Regions from separate parts of the Homo sapiens genome. Here region 2 is linked to region 1. A link means that fine-mapping ties the variant in region 1 to the expression of a gene that starts in the linked region. Tissue or cell type: whole blood. Region 1 holds a variant in brackets; the other region holds the start of a gene. All regions are shown on one strand. Distances are from middle to middle.

Region 1 (8,105 bases):
GTATGGTGAAACCCCGTCTCTACTAAAAATACAAAAATTAGCTGGGCGTGGTAGTGGCCACCTGTAGTCCCAGCTACTTGGGAGGCTGAGACAAGAGAATTGCCTGAACCCGGGAGGCGGAGATTGCAGTGAGCTGAGATCACGCCATTGCACTCCAGCCTGGGCAAAAGAGTGAAACTCTGTCTCAAAAAAAAAATAATAAATAAAATAAAATAAAATAAAAGTTCCTCTATGTTTATAGGCCTTAAAAAACAAACCAACTTTCTGTGAAGGTGAATGATTTTGTTAATTGTTTCAAGATGTTGAGTGTTTTAAACTATGTTGTAAAAGCCCTACATGATGACAAAACAAAACTCATTAGTTAGTTTTTCCCTGTTGGGCTTTTACTTAAAAATATAAAATGTAGACATTCACAGGCAATTTTACAACTGCAAATTTAAACCAAGTATAATCAGAAAAGGGGAAAAATGACATAATATTGATATATCTGCTTTGTTGAGCTAGATCTGAGAGTAATATATCTCACTCGCTTCATTCTCTCCTTGATCCTTCAGTGTGCTATAAGTTTAATTCAAGAAAATTTCTGGAAGGATACAAAAGAAGCTGTTAACAGGTTTTTTTCTTCTGAAGCAGGGTTCTAGGAGGAAGACTTATTCTATAATTAGATAATATACCTCTTTATACTGTTTGAATTTTTACCCTAGGCTTGTATTACAGTTAAAAAAATATAATAATAACAATGTCAACAACAAAAGTCCTAAATTTGTGTTAAATTATCCCTCTGTGTTCCCCACGGTTCTGGGCATGTATTAGTCAGGACTCTTTTTTTCTTTTCTTTTCTTTTTTCTTTTTCTTTTTTTTTTTTTTTTTTTTTGAGACAGGGTCTTGCTTGTTGCCCAGGCTGGAGTGCAATGGCATGATCTTGGCTCACTGCAACCTCCACCTCCCAGGTTCAAGCAATTCTCATGCCTCAGCCTCCTGAGTAGCTGGGATTACAGGCATGTGCCACCATGCCCAGCTAATTTTTGTATTTTTAGTGGAGATAGGGTTTCACCATGTTGGCTAAGCTGGTCTCAAACTCCTGACTTCAGGTGATCCACCTGCCTCAGCCTCCCAAAGTGCTAGGATTACAGGCACGAGCCACCACGCCTGGCCTGTCAGGACTCTTTAAAGTGATGGAAACCCAATTTAAACTAGACTCTGCAGAAAAGGGGGTGGTTGTTACTAGAGCACAGAGCAGGAATGGAGTAGTTTACAGAACTAAAGGAAGAACCATGATCTCAGGGGCTAGCACTGAGGCCTCCCTATGACAAACTTGTTTTTTCTCCTGTTCTCATGATCATCATTACTTGTGTTTGCTCTTCAGTTCATGTTGGTGTCATTCTCTCTTGCTTCTCCATATGGACGTGGCTTTTGGTAGTCCTAGCTTAGGAACCCCAGAGAAGAGAAAAAACATCTTTCTTCCCAAGTCTCTATTTTAATCCTGATGAAGGTTCTCATTGATTTTGCTTGTGTTGCATGCTTCCCCTTGAACTATCGCTATTGCCAAGGGAATTGGCCAGACCTGCATCATTTACCCAGTGTGTGGCCAGCATAATGGAATCTCTTAACAGGAGGAACAAGTGAAAGCTTCCTGGGAGGAAAAGTAAGTAACCACAGTCTGCTACAGTCTACCCCTTGACTGCTTAGTCTAATACAAACTCTCCTCCCATAATAGTATTCCAAGACAGTTCCTGGAAATCACACAGCCCTCATACAGATACCTAAAATATATTCACCCCCTTTCCCACAGCAAAACAATTTGATGTATTTAACAGCAGGTTAAGCTCCAAGTCCAAAGTTCTGGGGGATCTTTCTTCTTCTTGGGCTGCTTTGAATATGACTTCTCTCGGTTCAGCGACCCATGTTTAATTGAGGAATGTAATACAATAAAAAACTTTAATTTAGAAAAGAGGAAAAAAAGGGCCGGGCGCAGTGGCTCACGCCTGTATTTTTTTTTTTTTTACCTTGTCCCCAAAGAGCCTGTTTTTGGCCGGGTGTGGTGACTCACACCTGTAATCCCAACACTTTGGGAGGCCGAGACAGGTGGATCACCTGAGATCAGGAGTTCAAGACCAGCCTGGCCAACATAGTGAAACCTTGTCACTTCTAAAAATACAAAAATTAGCCAGGCATAGTAGCGCATGCCTATACTAGGAGGGACGAGGCAGGAAGATCACTTGAACCTGGGAGGCAGAGGTTGCAGTGAGCCGAGATCGTGCCACTGCACTCCAGCCTGGGCAGAAGAGCAAGACTCCATCTCAAAAAAAAAATACAAAAAAAAACCAGACTGTCTTTTTTTGAACTATTTGGAACTAGAAGAAATCATTCATCTTACTTTAAAGCAGTGGCTACCTTCCTTAAAATAGAATCTGTATGTCCATGCTGTGGTTTGAATGTGTCCCCTCCATAATTCAGGTATTGAAACTTAATGGCCAATGTGATGGTATTAAGAGGTGAGACCTTTAAGAGGTAATTAAATCATGAGCGGTCCTCCTCTCATGAATGAGATTAAAACTGTTATATAAGAAGCTTCAAATAGCATTGGACTCACTTGTCCTTCTACCTTCTGTTATGTAAGGACACAGTGTTTCTCCCCCTGGAGGATGCAGCAACAAGGTGTCATCTTGAAAGCAGAGAGCAGCCCTCATAAAAAAACTGAACCTGCCAGTGCCATGATCTTGAACTTTCCAGCCTCTAGAACTGGGAGAAAGTAAATTTTTGTTCTTTATAAATTACCAGTCTCAGGCAGGGCACAGTGGCTCACACCTGTAATCCCAGCACTTTGGGAGGCTGAGATGGGTGGATCACAAGGTCAGGAGTTCGAGACCAGCTTACATGGTGAAACCCCGTGTCTACTAAAAATACAAAAAATTAGCCAGGCATCATGGCACGTGCCTGTAGTCCCAGCTACTTGGGAGGCTGAGGCAGGAGAATTGCTTGAACTTGGCAGGCAGAGGTTGCAGTGAGCTGAGATTGCACCACTGCACTCTAGCCTGGGTGACAGAGTGAGACTCCATCTCAAAAAATAATAAAAATAATAATAAATAAATAAAATAAATTACCAGTTTCATGGCCGGGCACAGTGGCTCATGCCTGTAATCCCAGCACTTTGGGAGGCCGAGACGGGGTGGATCATCTGAGGTCAGGAGTTCGAGACCAGCCTGGCCAAAATGGTGAAGCCCTGTCTCTACTAAAAATAAAAAAATTAGCTGGGTATGGTGGTACATGCCTGTAATCACAGTTACTTGGGAGGCTGAGACAGGAGAATCGCTTGAACCTGGGAGGTGGAGGTTGCAGTGAGCCAAGATTGTGCCACTGCACTTCAGCCTGGACAACAGAGCGAGACTCCGTCTCAAAAAAAAAAAAAATTATCAATTTCAGGTGTTTTGTTATAACAACACAAACTGTACTAAGACAATCTACACCTATTTCTTAATGTCTATCTCTGTCTCTATTTACCTACCTATCTATCTGTCCTCTGTCTAACCTCCCTTTCCTTCCAGGAAGTGAAGATTTAGGCAATAGTGTTTTGAA[G/A]ACTATTGTTTCAAAAATGCTTCCATGCTCTTGAGAAAGGGCTACTATTTGTTGCTCATTGCTTACTTTTTTTTACCCTGCTTTGGTTTTTCATTGGCCATCAAAGTTCTTACTGATGATCCTGAGTCAACTCATTAAGGACTCTGATGGGGAATTGGGAGGGAAGGAAGAAGGAATAAACCTTCAAGTGTGAAAGGATGAAAGGGATATAGTGAGAAAGTAAGAGGGACCATTGATCCACAGTCAGAAAAGTGGCTCAGGATTGGGGTCACCACCTGAAAAATCTGGACAAGTGAATTGAGAAGATGTCCATAATAAGCCTTGTCTTTGTGCCCCCGGAGTCATATTGGATTAGAAACTTTGCCAGCTGACTGCAGTTTTCACAAGATTGAACGCCTTATATTACTTATCCCCTGGCTTCTGAAGATCAGGTATTCACCCTTCAGGAAACCTTGCTCATTTTACATCAGGTCTCCTTAATAGTTTTCCTTCCTGTAGAAGCAATGCTCACCTTGAAGCATATATCTATTTCTGCCACTGGCCAATTACCTCTTACGGTATTTCTACCAAAATACCTTTCCTCTTTGTTAGACTAAAGATGACTCCTAGACCCTCAGAGAAATGATGGGAAAGAGTTTTCACACCTGTACTTAGATGGCTTAACTAAGACTACCAGATCCCCCAAGCTGGGATAGCAATAAATGGATTCTACCAGTCCCCCAGAGTGTTCTTTTCCCCCTAATCTATTTCAAGCCAGGCAATCTGGAAATGAGTTTTATCTTTCCTCTATCTCAAGATACTCTTCTTAAAGTTACATGGAGATGGAGACTGAAGATTAAAGTTTAATCAGCTGATTCTCAAACTCTATATCTCAGATCTCACACCTCCAACTTTTTTATCTGGGGTGGAAGGTGGTGATGGGAAGGGAAGAGAGTATCACAGTTCTACAACAATCATTCCTAGTTTCCTCTTAGTGCTCGTTTGCAATGCCTCTTCCTGGGACCAAATTATTCTCAGGAACTGTTTGGTTGCAAGGAAGAGAAACTCACTAAAATTAACCCAAGTAAAATGGTACATTTATTATATGGCTATAACAACTAATGTCCAGGACAGTGAGGCCATGTTATAGACATTTATGAAGAAGAAATAAGGTATACATAGTTGGGCCTCAGAAGGTCTATAAAAGGTAGATAGAAAGTAAGGAAATAAGGCTGTTCTTTTCCTAAGACCCTTTCATCTTTCATCTCTGCTTCTTTTAATTCTGGCTTTCTCCCTGCAGAGAATAAATTTCTCCTTATTCATGGTGTCTTTGACCCTGTAGTTTCAGCTTGGTTCACTGTCTCACAGTGGGGGAAAGTGTGTTATCCAATAGGAAACTGGAGTGCTATTAGGATAGGAGAACAAACTCTAGGACGCCAAAATATGAAAAGTTACTATAATAATGAACAATCTATCCAAGCTAATTCAAGTTGGATAAATAGTTTGCCATATCTGAAGTGGAAGTCACGAAGACACCAATCCATAGTGACTCACTCTGTCCCTGGAACTTGAAGGCACCCAGTAATTGTTTGCTTAGTGGATGAATAAATTAGTGAATGACTGGAGTTGAATGCAATTCATGTCTGATTTATTTTGATTCATCTTGGTAACACTCATAGCACCTGATATACTCGTGTGTGTGTGTGTGTGTGTGTGTGTGTGTATGTTGGTATATGGTAAGTACTCAATAAGCAACTGGATACTTGCTGAGCACCAACCTAATATAATACCTTACTGTATTAGCAGAATAACTCTCACCTCCTTTAAGTATTGTGCTTTTTGAAATGGCAAAATTGGCCAGGCACGGTGTCTCACACCTGTAATCCCAACACTTTGGGAGGCCAAGGCAGGTGGATCACCTGAGGTCAGTAGTTCGAGACCAGTCTGGCTAACATGGCAAAACCCTGTTTCTACTAAAAGTACAAAAGTTAGCCGGGCATGGTGGCATTCGCCTGTAGTCCCAGCTAGTTGGGAGGCTGAGGCAGGAGAATTGCTTGAACCTGGGAGGCAGTGGTTGCAGTGAGCCAAGATCGCACCATTGCACTCCAGCCTGGGTGACACAGTGAGACTCTGTCTCAATAAAATAAAATAAAATAAAATGGCAAAATCATTGTATAGTATCGTGGTCTCCAGTGTAGAATGTGTATGGCAACGCACCATATAAAAAATTATTATGACCTCTAAAAGAAAAATTGTGTTGCCAATATCTAATATACAGGTTGATATTTGTGTCTTCACATAGGTCAAATGTCAAGAATAGTTCATGAGTTCTCTAAGGGAAGAGTGGGGCTTCCACAACATGGAGGACTTGACTGAGTTGTCTTCTTCTGGGTGTTGGCTCTCAGCATCCTGTGATATATTGCAGTTTACTTGGGCCAGTGTGGATTCTAAGAAAAATGCATTATCTAGTTTGAACTAAAGTAACTTTCACAAAATGAACAAAAAGCTTAAAAAGATACCTGTAATGACATTGTAAATTTAAGACAATACCTATAATGGAAGCATAAGGAAACAATGAGAAAATGGCAAAACAAACATTTCTGCTCTGTTATGAGCTCTTTGTCTGCCACATTAAGAGATAAAACAATGATATCTAGTGAGATCTGACAAGAGGTGTCGAAAAAATTAGACATTATCATGGAGCCCTGTTTGAATTGTGGATTTAAGTCTAACATCACTGACAATGAACATTGCCCCAAAGTGTATCTTGTGCTTGAGTTTTATCCATAAAATTGTCATGGTTATCATAACATTTAGAAATGAAGCATCTAGAGTATGCAGTCCAATCTTACAGCTTTTTTACAGGGATGTTTTAATCAGGCACTGCTCAATTTCACTTAATTTCACTAACTTTATAGATTTTAGCTTAACAGCAGAGGTTAAAAAGCTACATACTATTAGAGAAATATGTGTTCTTCTGCCCTGGTAAAACTTGGCAGAAATAATAAGAAAAATGTGTTCCTTTGTCAGCAAATATCATTGGAAAATGCATAGAAAAGATTGCTGAAGATCTGAGGAAACAAGCATTAGGGTAGATTTGACATCGTGGAAGGTTTCTGATATAATTGGATGAAAGTACAGATATTTCTAACTTGACTCAATTTATGATACTTGCTGGATTCTGGTTCAATATTGAAATACATAGAAAACAATTCTCTCTATCGCCATTAAGAAAAATGTATCTTGGAGGGGCTATATTAAGATATAATTATACCTTCAATTATAATTATAATTACTTCTTAAATACAAGAGGGATAAGGCTAGAGGAATAGAGCATAAGTGAAATTTAATGACCGCATCATTCATATGCAGTTACTGTAGCAAAGAAGTTAGAGCCATAATAACTAAAATTCCAGGAATTTTAGGTGTGATAAATTTTGTGAAAACAGAAACTTTAATCTTAAAAACTTCATAATGATGTATAGCAGAAGTTGGCAACCTTTTTTGGTAAAGAAGATAGTCAGTATTTTAGGTTTTCCAGGCCATATGGTCCCTATTATAGTGATTCAGTTCTGCCACTGTAGGGTGAAAGCAGCCATAGACAGTATGTAAATTAATGAGTGTGATTGTATTTCAATAAAACTTTATAAAAACAAGAGTGGAATGGATTTGATGTAAGGGCCATAGCTGGACCCCTGCTTTATAATGAGATGGGGTAGCCATAAACACAGAGGTTCATCGTTTATCTTCTGTCAAAACACTTTAAAAGGTTGTTGAAGTTAAAGACAAATCTGCCATTTATTGATTTTCTTTTTTTGAGACAGAGTCTTGCTCCATTGCCCAGACTGGAGTGCAGTGGTACAATCACAGCTCAGTGCAGCCTAGACCTCCTGGGCTCAAGCAATCCTCCTACCTAAGCCTCCAGAGAAACTGGGACTACAGGTATACACCACCACACCTGACTAATTAAAAAAAAATTTTTTGTTGGCGAGGTGCGGTGTCTCACGCCTGTAATCCCAGCACTTTGGGGGACCAAGGCGAGTGGATCACGAGGTCAGGAGTTCAAGACCAGTCTGGCCAAGATGGTGAAACTCTGTCTCTACTAAAACTACAAAAATTAGCCAGACACAGTAGCAGGTGCCTGTAATCCCATCTACTCGGGAGGCTGAGGCAGGAGAATTGTTTGAACCCGGGTGGCAGAGGTTGCAGTGAACTGTGATTGTGCCACTGCACTCCAGCCCGGACAACAGAGTGAGACTCCGTCTCAAAAAAACAAAAACAAAAACAAACAAACAAAAAAAATTATCTAGAGATGGGGATGAGGTAAGGGGTGTGGGTGTCTTGCTATGTTGCCCAGGCTAGTGTGAAACTCCTGGGCTCACTTGATTTGCCCGCCTCAGCCTCCTAAAGTGTTGGGATTATAGGTGTGAACCATTGCACCCAGCCAATTTATTGGTATTTTATGTGTCAAGTGGGTGTCAATAGTATGCTACCTAGCAGACAAATTAAAGGAAAAATAAGAACAGATTAAATAGCTTGTTTCTTCAAGG
Region 2 (8,105 bases), 180 kb after region 1:
TAGAACCTCAAGCCACCCAGGCTACATTTACAGAATCAGCCTCTCCAGAAAAACAGCAACAAAGGAGGGCCTTCCTATGTATTTGGAAGGAGTCACCTAGAGGAGGGACTTGGGGTTTTGGTGTTGGTGTGGGGGGCAGGGATGGGATGGGGAGGGGGAAGCTTATTGAAATATACTAAAAGACAAACCAACCTAAGGGCTGGAGGGAAGAAAATTCACACTTGTAAGCTTCTTTTTTAAGGGGCATCTCTTAGGCTCTAGCTTTTGAGATTCAGTATATATATATTTTTGAGTCTTGCTCTGCTGGAGTGCAGTGGTGTGATCTGGGCTCACTGCAAGTTCTGCCTCTCAGGTTCACACCATTCTTCTGCCTCAGCCTCCCGAGCAGCTGGGACTACAGGCGCCTGCCACCATGCCCAGCTAATTTTTTGTATTTTTAGTAGAGACGGGGTTTCACCCTGTTAGCCAGGATGGTCTCGATCTCCTGATCTCATGATCCGCCCGCCTCGGCCTCCCAAAATGCTGGGATTACAGGCGTGAGCCACCGCGCCCGGCCCAGTATTTTTGTTTTATGAAGATATTACATTTGTAAAGTATGAGCTTGGTGTCAGCAAACTTATATCCCTGTGTACAAACTGGCCGAATCACTTAGCCACTTTGGGCCAAATCACTTAGCTCTTCTAACAGTAAGAAATCAACAAGAAAAATAAACATTTCAAACATTACAATGTGTTCATGTATTCACTGTGGGGGATGACCAGATTCTCGAAACCACAGGTTGTTCTTAGTGAAACAAGTTTGGGTTGGGGCCATAGACTTGTGTATTTAGAATCAATGGCTGTTCTCTCTCTGGGACTTTGATTTTTTTCTTGGGCTCATCCCCTTTTTGTAGTATCTTATCTTTGTCTTATTTGTATAGGACTTAACTGTTCCCATTCCCTTATTAGAGCAATCTAAGTGATTACCTTCATACCTTTTGGAATTATATGCTTCAAAATTCCAAAAAGAATGATTTTGGGCTGGGCACAGTGGCTCACACCTATAATTCCAGCACTTTGAGAGGCTGAGGTGGATCGCCTGAGGTCAGGAGTTTGAGACCAACCTGGCCAACATAGTGAAACCCCGTCTCTACTAAAAAATATAAAAAATTAGCCGGGCATGGTGGCAGGTGCCTGTAATCTCAGCTACTCGGGAGGTGGAGGTTGCAATGAGCCCAGATCGCACCATTGCACTCCAGCCTGGGCAACAAAAGGTGAAACTCCATCTCAATTAAAAAAAAAATAATGATTTTGGTGGTCGACTTCAAATAGGTAGGAGAAGAAGGAGAGAGGAGATGGAGGGTCAGGGAGATCTAATTACTCTCTAAAATCATGCTAGGAAAGATAACACCTTTTAATAACACTCTCTGCTTTTATAACATCATTCTGCCAAGGAGCTCAAAGGTTTCAACAAAGTTCACTTTCAGAAAACCCCTTTGAGGAAGACAGAATATACATCTTCTCTCCATTTTAAAGATGAAGAAACAGGCCGGGCACAATGGCTAATGCCTGTAATCCCAGCACTTTGGGAGGCTGAGGCCAGAGGATCGCTTGAGCTCCAGAGTTTGAGACCAGCCTGGATAACATGGCAAAACCCTGTCTCTACAAAAAAAATACGAAAATTAGATGGGTGTGGTGGCATGCACCTGTGGTCCCAGCTACTTGGGAGGCTAAGGTGGGAGGATCGCTTGAGCCCAGGGAGTCAAGTCTACACTGAGCCATGATTGGATCACTGCACTCCAGCCTGGGTAGACAGAGCAAGACCCTGTCTCAAAAAAAAGAAATGAAAGAGAAAGAAAGAAAGAGGAGAGGAGAGGAGATGAGGGGAGGGGAGGGGAGGAGGGAGGGGGGGAGGAAGGAAGGAAGGAAGGAAGGAAAAAAAGATGAAAAAAGAAAAAAACAAGATGAAACAGAGGCAGAAAGACTTTACGTAAATTGCTCATCATGTGGTTGTCAAGTTTGACCCCAAAACCCAATTTATTGACCAAGGTTATTCTTTGACTGAGGCAAGGGGGTCCGCTCTCCTGGGCCTTGGGCTTTAGAAAGCTCATCTCTGGCCTTTCTGAGATCCATCCCTTTCTTTTTATTTTTCTTGACACGGAGTCTTGCTCTGTCACTCAGGCTGGAGTGCAGTGGCATGATCTCGACTCACTGTAACCTCTGCCTCCCGGGTTCAAGCGATTCTCCTGCCTCAGCCTCCTGAGATAACAGGCGCTCGCCACCACATCTGGCTAATTTTTGTATTTTTAGTAAAGACTGGGTTTCATCATGTTGGCCAGGTTGGTTTCGAACTCCTGACCTGAGGTGAGCTGCCCACCTTGGCCTCCCAAAGTGCTGGGATTACAGGCATGAGCCACTGCGCCCAGCTCAGATCCATCCCTTTCTAAGGGCAAACAGTCCATGGTGCAAAGGGGCCATGCCACCCAGAGTTATGAGTACCTGGGACTCCAGAATTCCTTGCCTGGTGGCCTCCACATGCACTTCCAGGGCCTGCTTGGGCCTCTTCTATGGGTCTGTCCTGAGTGTTGATAGAACCACTGATGTGAGTACCTGGGCTTGAGCCGTGGCCTGGAGATCCTGTTGACTGTAGCATGGAGGGGGCTTGTGCAGCTGAATGTCTGTATGCAGGTGGTGGGAGTTCTGGAATATGATGGAGCTGGAGGTGGGAAGAGAAGTAGGCTTGGGGCAGCTCTCTCATGCCACCTCATTCTGGCCAAAACTCAGGTCAAACTGTGAAGAGTCTAAATGTGAATCTGCCCTTCAAGGTGGCTACAAAGGTATCTTTGTCAAGGTAGGAGACCTTGTGGCCTCCACGTGCACTTCCAGGGCCTGCTTGGGCCTCTTCTACGGGTCTGTCCTGAGTCTTCTATGAATCTGCCCTTCAGGGCAGATTCATATTTAGACTCTTCACAGTTTGACCTGAGTTTTGGCCAGAATAAGGTGACATTTAGTTTGTTGGCTTGATGGATGACTTAAATATTTAGACATATGGTGTGTAGGCCTGCATTCCTACTCTTGCCTTTTTTTTTGCCCCTCCAGTGTTTTGGGTAGTTTTGCTCCCCTACAGCCAAAGGCAAACAGATAAGTTGGAGGTCTGGAGTGGCTACATAATTTTACACGACTGCAATTCTCTGGCTGCACTTCACAAATGTATACAAACTAAATACAAGTCCTGTGTTTTTATCACAGGGAGGCTGATCAATATAATGAAATTAAAAGGGGGCTGGTCCATATTGTTCTGTGTTTTTGTTTGTTTGTTTCTTTTTTTGTTTTTGTGGCCTCCTTCCTCTCAATTTATGAAGAGAAGCAGTAAGATGTTCCTCTCGGGTCCTCTGAGGGACCTGGGGAGCTCAGGCTGGGAATCTCCAAGGCAGTAGGTCGCCTATCAAAAATCAAAGTCCAGGTTTGTGGGGGGAAAACAAAAGCAGCCCATTACCCAGAGGACTGTCCGCCTTCCCCTCACCCCAGCCTAGGCCTTTGAAAGGAAACAAAAGACAAGACAAAATGATTGGCGTCCTGAGGGAGATTCAGCCTAGAGCTCTCTCTCCCCCAATCCCTCCCTCCGGCTGAGGAAACTAACAAAGGAAAAAAAAATTGCGGAAAGCAGGATTTAGAGGAAGCAAATTCCACTGGTGCCCTTGGCTGCCGGGAACGTGGACTAGAGAGTCTGCGGCGCAGCCCCGAGCCCAGCGCTTCCCGCGCGTCTTAGGCCGGCGGGCCCGGGCGGGGGAAGGGGACGCAGACCGCGGACCCTAAGACACCTGCTGTACCCTCCACCCCCACCCCACCCACCTCCCCCCAACTCCCTAGATGTGTCGTGGGCGGCTGAACGTCGCCCGTTTAAGGGGCGGGCCCCGGCTCCACGTGCTTTCTGCTGAGTGACTGAACTACATAAACAGAGGCCGGGAACGGGGCGGGGAGGAGGGAGAGCACAGGCTTTGACCGATAGTAACCTCTGCGCTCGGTGCAGCCGAATCTATAAAAGGAACTAGTCCCGGCAAAAACCCCGTAATTGCGAGCGAGAGTGAGTGGGGCCGGGACCCGCAGAGCCGAGCCGACCCTTCTCTCCCGGGCTGCGGCAGGGCAGGGCGGGGAGCTCCGCGCACCAACAGAGCCGGTTCTCAGGGCGCTTTGCTCCTTGTTTTTTCCCCGGTTCTGTTTTCTCCCCTTCTCCGGAAGGCTTGTCAAGGGGTAGGAGAAAGAGACGCAAACACAAAAGTGGAAAACAGGTAAGAGGCTCTCCAGTGACTTACTTGGGCGTTATTGTTTTGTTTCGAGGCCAAGGAGGCTTCGGGAAGTGCTCGGTTTCGGGGACTTTGATCCGGAGCCCCACATCCCCACCACTTGCAACTCAGATGGGACCGGAGGCGGTGTTAAATGGGGAGACGATGTCCTAGTACGAGCTCTGGTGACCCCAGGACTCTGCGCTGCTGCGCTTGGGGCTTGCCCGACGGTGGAGACCGGGGAGCATCTCTGGGCGTGGAGACCCGGGCGCAGTACCCCGGGCTCAGAGGGGTCGGGGGTTCCCGGGCGTGCTGAGGGCGCTGCTGCCGGGTGGGGAGAGCTGCAGGTCCGGCACCGAGCGCTGCTTTGTTCGGAGGGCCCTGAGCTGGCTAGAAACCCTTCTGGTTGCAGGTCGGCCAGTACCTACGGAGACAAATGCCAGCACTGAGTCTTCACTCGGTTCTTAAGAAGCTGGTCTGTTCTGACCTGGGAATTGGCTATATGCTCCCCGGGACTGGAGCGGCACAGTCCCGGACTGTGAATCCGGGAACTCGAGTTGGAGGTGTCCCAAACGGTCCGTGGTGCTATTGCTCACTAGAGGCCTTGGGTCTTTGTTTGACCTGAGGGGTAGGGAGGTCCTGCCTACAGTCTCCGTGCGCTCAGCTGAGCTGGTGTCCCTGGCGCAGAGCGCGGACGAGTTTTGTTTCCTTTTCTTTTTCTTTTTTTTCTTTCCTTTAAGTCTCGGTCTGTCGCCCAGGCTGGAGTGCAATGGAACGATCTCCGCTCACTGCAACCTCCGCCTCCCGGGTTCAAGCGATTCTCCTGCCTCAGCCTCCTGAGTAGCTGGGATTACAGGCGCGTCACCACATCCAGCTAATTTTTGTATTTTTAGTAGAGACGGGGTTTCAACTTGTTGGCCAGGCTGGTCTCGAACCCTCGACCTCAGGTGATCCACCGGCCTCGGCCTCCCCAAGTGCTGGGATTATAGGCGTGAGCCACCGCGCGCGGCCGAGTTTTGTTTCTTTTAAAAACAAGACTTAGGAGAGCCTGCGGAGACCCGGAGGTGGGGTGCCCAATCCTCCCTCTCCCACGTTCCCTGCAGCCCCATCTTCCAGACCGTTGCTGCTGGTCTCTCGGGGCAGCTTCTGCCTGGGCGCAGATGGGGAAGCTGGGCCGAGGTGGTGCCGTGGAATGACCGGGAGTAACCCCGGCGGGCGGCGCAGAACTCGGAGCTCCGCCGCGGGGCTGGGCTGGGCTCTGCCGTGAGGGTGGGGGTGCTGGGCGCGCGGGCTGCGGTGGCCCCCGGAGACTGGCCCGCAGCGCCTCCTGGCCGGAGGACCTAGGAATCGGCCGGCTCTACTAGGTGTCTTTGCTCGCGGTTCCGACTGTGAATCCGGTGAAGACCGGTGGTTGCAGACGGGGAGGAACTATGAGGTTGAGGCGAAAGCCCGTTTTGTTTTTTTTTTTTTGTTTTTTTGGTTTTTTTTTTTGTTAGCGTGTTTGCCAACTCCCAGGCCATTGGTAAAGCAGGAAGGTTCTTGGGGCGGCGGACGGTGCCAGGGTTATGTGTAGGTGCCTCTTTAGGTATATCTTTTATCAAAAAGAAGCAAAGAAATAAGATTAAAAATAAACAAAGAAAAAAGTTGTCTGGCACTGGCAGTAATTGGCCTGCCTTTGCAGCACTGATACCATTAGCTTTTAAAATCCGACTTTTCATTGACACTTCAAGAAGAGAATGGGTAGTATATACACATTCATCTCATAGTGGACAAATTTCATATTTAAAAAAACCTTCTGGGTACTGAAATCAGCAAGTCACTTGCCCTCCATGGCCGAATCCCTGCTTCCCACGAAGAGAACCTCACAAAAATTTCCCCCAAGTTAAAGAGTGGAATTTTCTTGATTTTTTTTTCTTTTTTTTTTAACGGCCGTAGTTTAGAACCCAGACTTAAATTATGATCTTCTTTTCAAACAAAACTTAAAGTCCTTAAGTTTTCATCTCCCCTTTTATTTCAACCTATTCTTCTCATACCTACCACAAAAATAATGGAGGCTTTCTGTTGAGAAACTTTCCGTTTCTGTTGAGAGTATCATTCTCTTGAGAAACTTTCTCCTAAATCAGAGAAAGTATGGAAGCATGGAAAGTATTCCTGAGTAGAACCTCTACAGATATTACAATATTTTTCAAATACAAAGTTTCCATTGTCAGCCTGTTTCCCAAGTGCTTCCACAAACCATTAAATAATTCCACAAACCATTAAAATAATTAATGCTAGGGAATTTTAGGAAAACATTGGTTTACAATCAGAAGGACCGGGGAAGTGGGTCTTCAGCCTTCACGATGACTACAAGCCATTTAAGGGACTAGAATTGCTACTGTTGTCAGAGCAATTTAGGAGTCTGTATTTGAGCACCCGCATAGTGTTCCAGAATGACATATCTGACTGTAACCTGGACACGTGTGATATGTTGTCTCCCCTGCAGATGAGCATTTGAAATCTCAACCCTCGTATTTCTACGAGTGCAGGCCTATAATGGACCCTGGGCACATTTTTTTTTTTTTTGAGATGCAGTCTCGCTCTGTTTCCCAGGCTGGAGTGCAGTGGCACGATATGGCTCACTGCAACCTCCACCTCCTGGGTTCAAGAGATTCTCCTGCCTCAGCCTCCTGAGTAGCTGGGACTATAGGCGCACGCCACCATGCCTGGCTAGTTTTTGCATTTTCAGTAGAGACAGAGTTTCACCATGTTGGCCAGGATGGTCTCGATTTCCTGACCTCTTGATCCACCCGCCTCGGCCTCCCAAAGTGCTGGGATTACAGGCGTGAGGCACCGCGCCCGACCCCTGGACACATTTTGACTTAGAACATATTTTCGGTTTGTGTGAGACAGTGCATTAGTGCAGGATTGGAAAAGAGTGATCAGGAATTGATTGTTTTCAAGGATTGGTTCCTTCTGCTCAAGGAAGTCCCATTGTAAACATAAAAAAATGAATGAAACTGAAGAAGTTCAGTGACTTAGCTTTTTATTATCTTCTGTAGTACTTACCTTTTTGGAGAGGAGTTGGTTGGGATATTTTTCCATTTAAATTTTTTTTTTAAAGGGATCTTCTCTCCCGTAAGCCGGGATACTTAAGCTATATATGTAGTGGCTACAAATTAAGGTCTTCACTGTTTTCATTTTTAGCTGCTAGAATAAGTGAACATTACCTTAGATAGACTCTTCTAATTATGAAGATATCTAGATGTCTAGAAAATATCAAAATGCATGTGGTTTTTGCATTTCTAAAATACTTTTAAAACCAAATACTTTTTCTTTTTTTTTTTTTTCTGAGATGGAGTCTTGCTCTTTTGCCTAGGCTGGAGCGCAGTAGAATGATCTTGGCTCACTGCAACTTCCGCCTCTCAGGTTCAGGTGATTCTCCTGCCTCAACCTCCTGAGTAGCTGGGATTACAGGTGCGTGCCACCACACCCGGCTAGTTTTTGTGTTTTTAGTAGGGACAGGGTTTCACCATGTTGGCCAGGCTGGTCTCAAGCTCCTGACCTCAAGTGATCTGCCAGCCTCAGCCTCCCAAAGTGCTGGGATTACAGGCATGAGCCACCACACCTGGCCTCAAATACATTTTTTTAAGTATCCAGATATTAAATAAATAATACCATTATAGTAGTTGTTATGGTCATTTACTCTAGCATCAAATGTTAAAAGATCATTCTGAACACTTGTTTTGTTTATGCTGAGAGAAGGCCTACTCCAAAAAATGCAACCATCTTCGTATCTGCATGTGGATACAACCATGAATGGCCAAAGTTATTGCAGTGTTGAATAGACACTTATATAGCACTG

The links. PIP is the estimated chance that this variant, and not a neighbour inherited with it, causes the effect.
Region 2: ABCA1 starts here. The variant in region 1 is fine-mapped to the expression of ABCA1 in whole blood (TOPMed, PIP 0.92).

What each region holds. Positions count from the first base shown.
Region 1 is chr9:105,101,041-105,109,145 of GRCh38, reverse strand. The region is part of intron 1 of LOC105376197 (a long non-coding RNA gene); the gene reads right to left. Among named protein-coding and RNA genes, the nearest start is that of CT70, 110 kb to the right of the region's middle. The variant G/A (reference allele first, on the strand shown) is at 3,577.
Region 2 is chr9:104,924,097-104,932,201 of GRCh38, reverse strand. ABCA1 (ATP binding cassette subfamily A member 1) reads left to right here and starts at 4,047. Exons shown (of 50, transcript NM_005502.4): 1 at 4,047-4,267. It overlaps LOC105376196 (a long non-coding RNA gene), which reads right to left and starts at 5,413. Exons shown (of 3, transcript NR_188620.1): 1 at 4,292-5,413; 2 at 2,478-2,694. RefSeq lists silencers at 3,888-4,077, 5,414-5,653 and enhancers at 4,278-4,357, 4,678-4,737.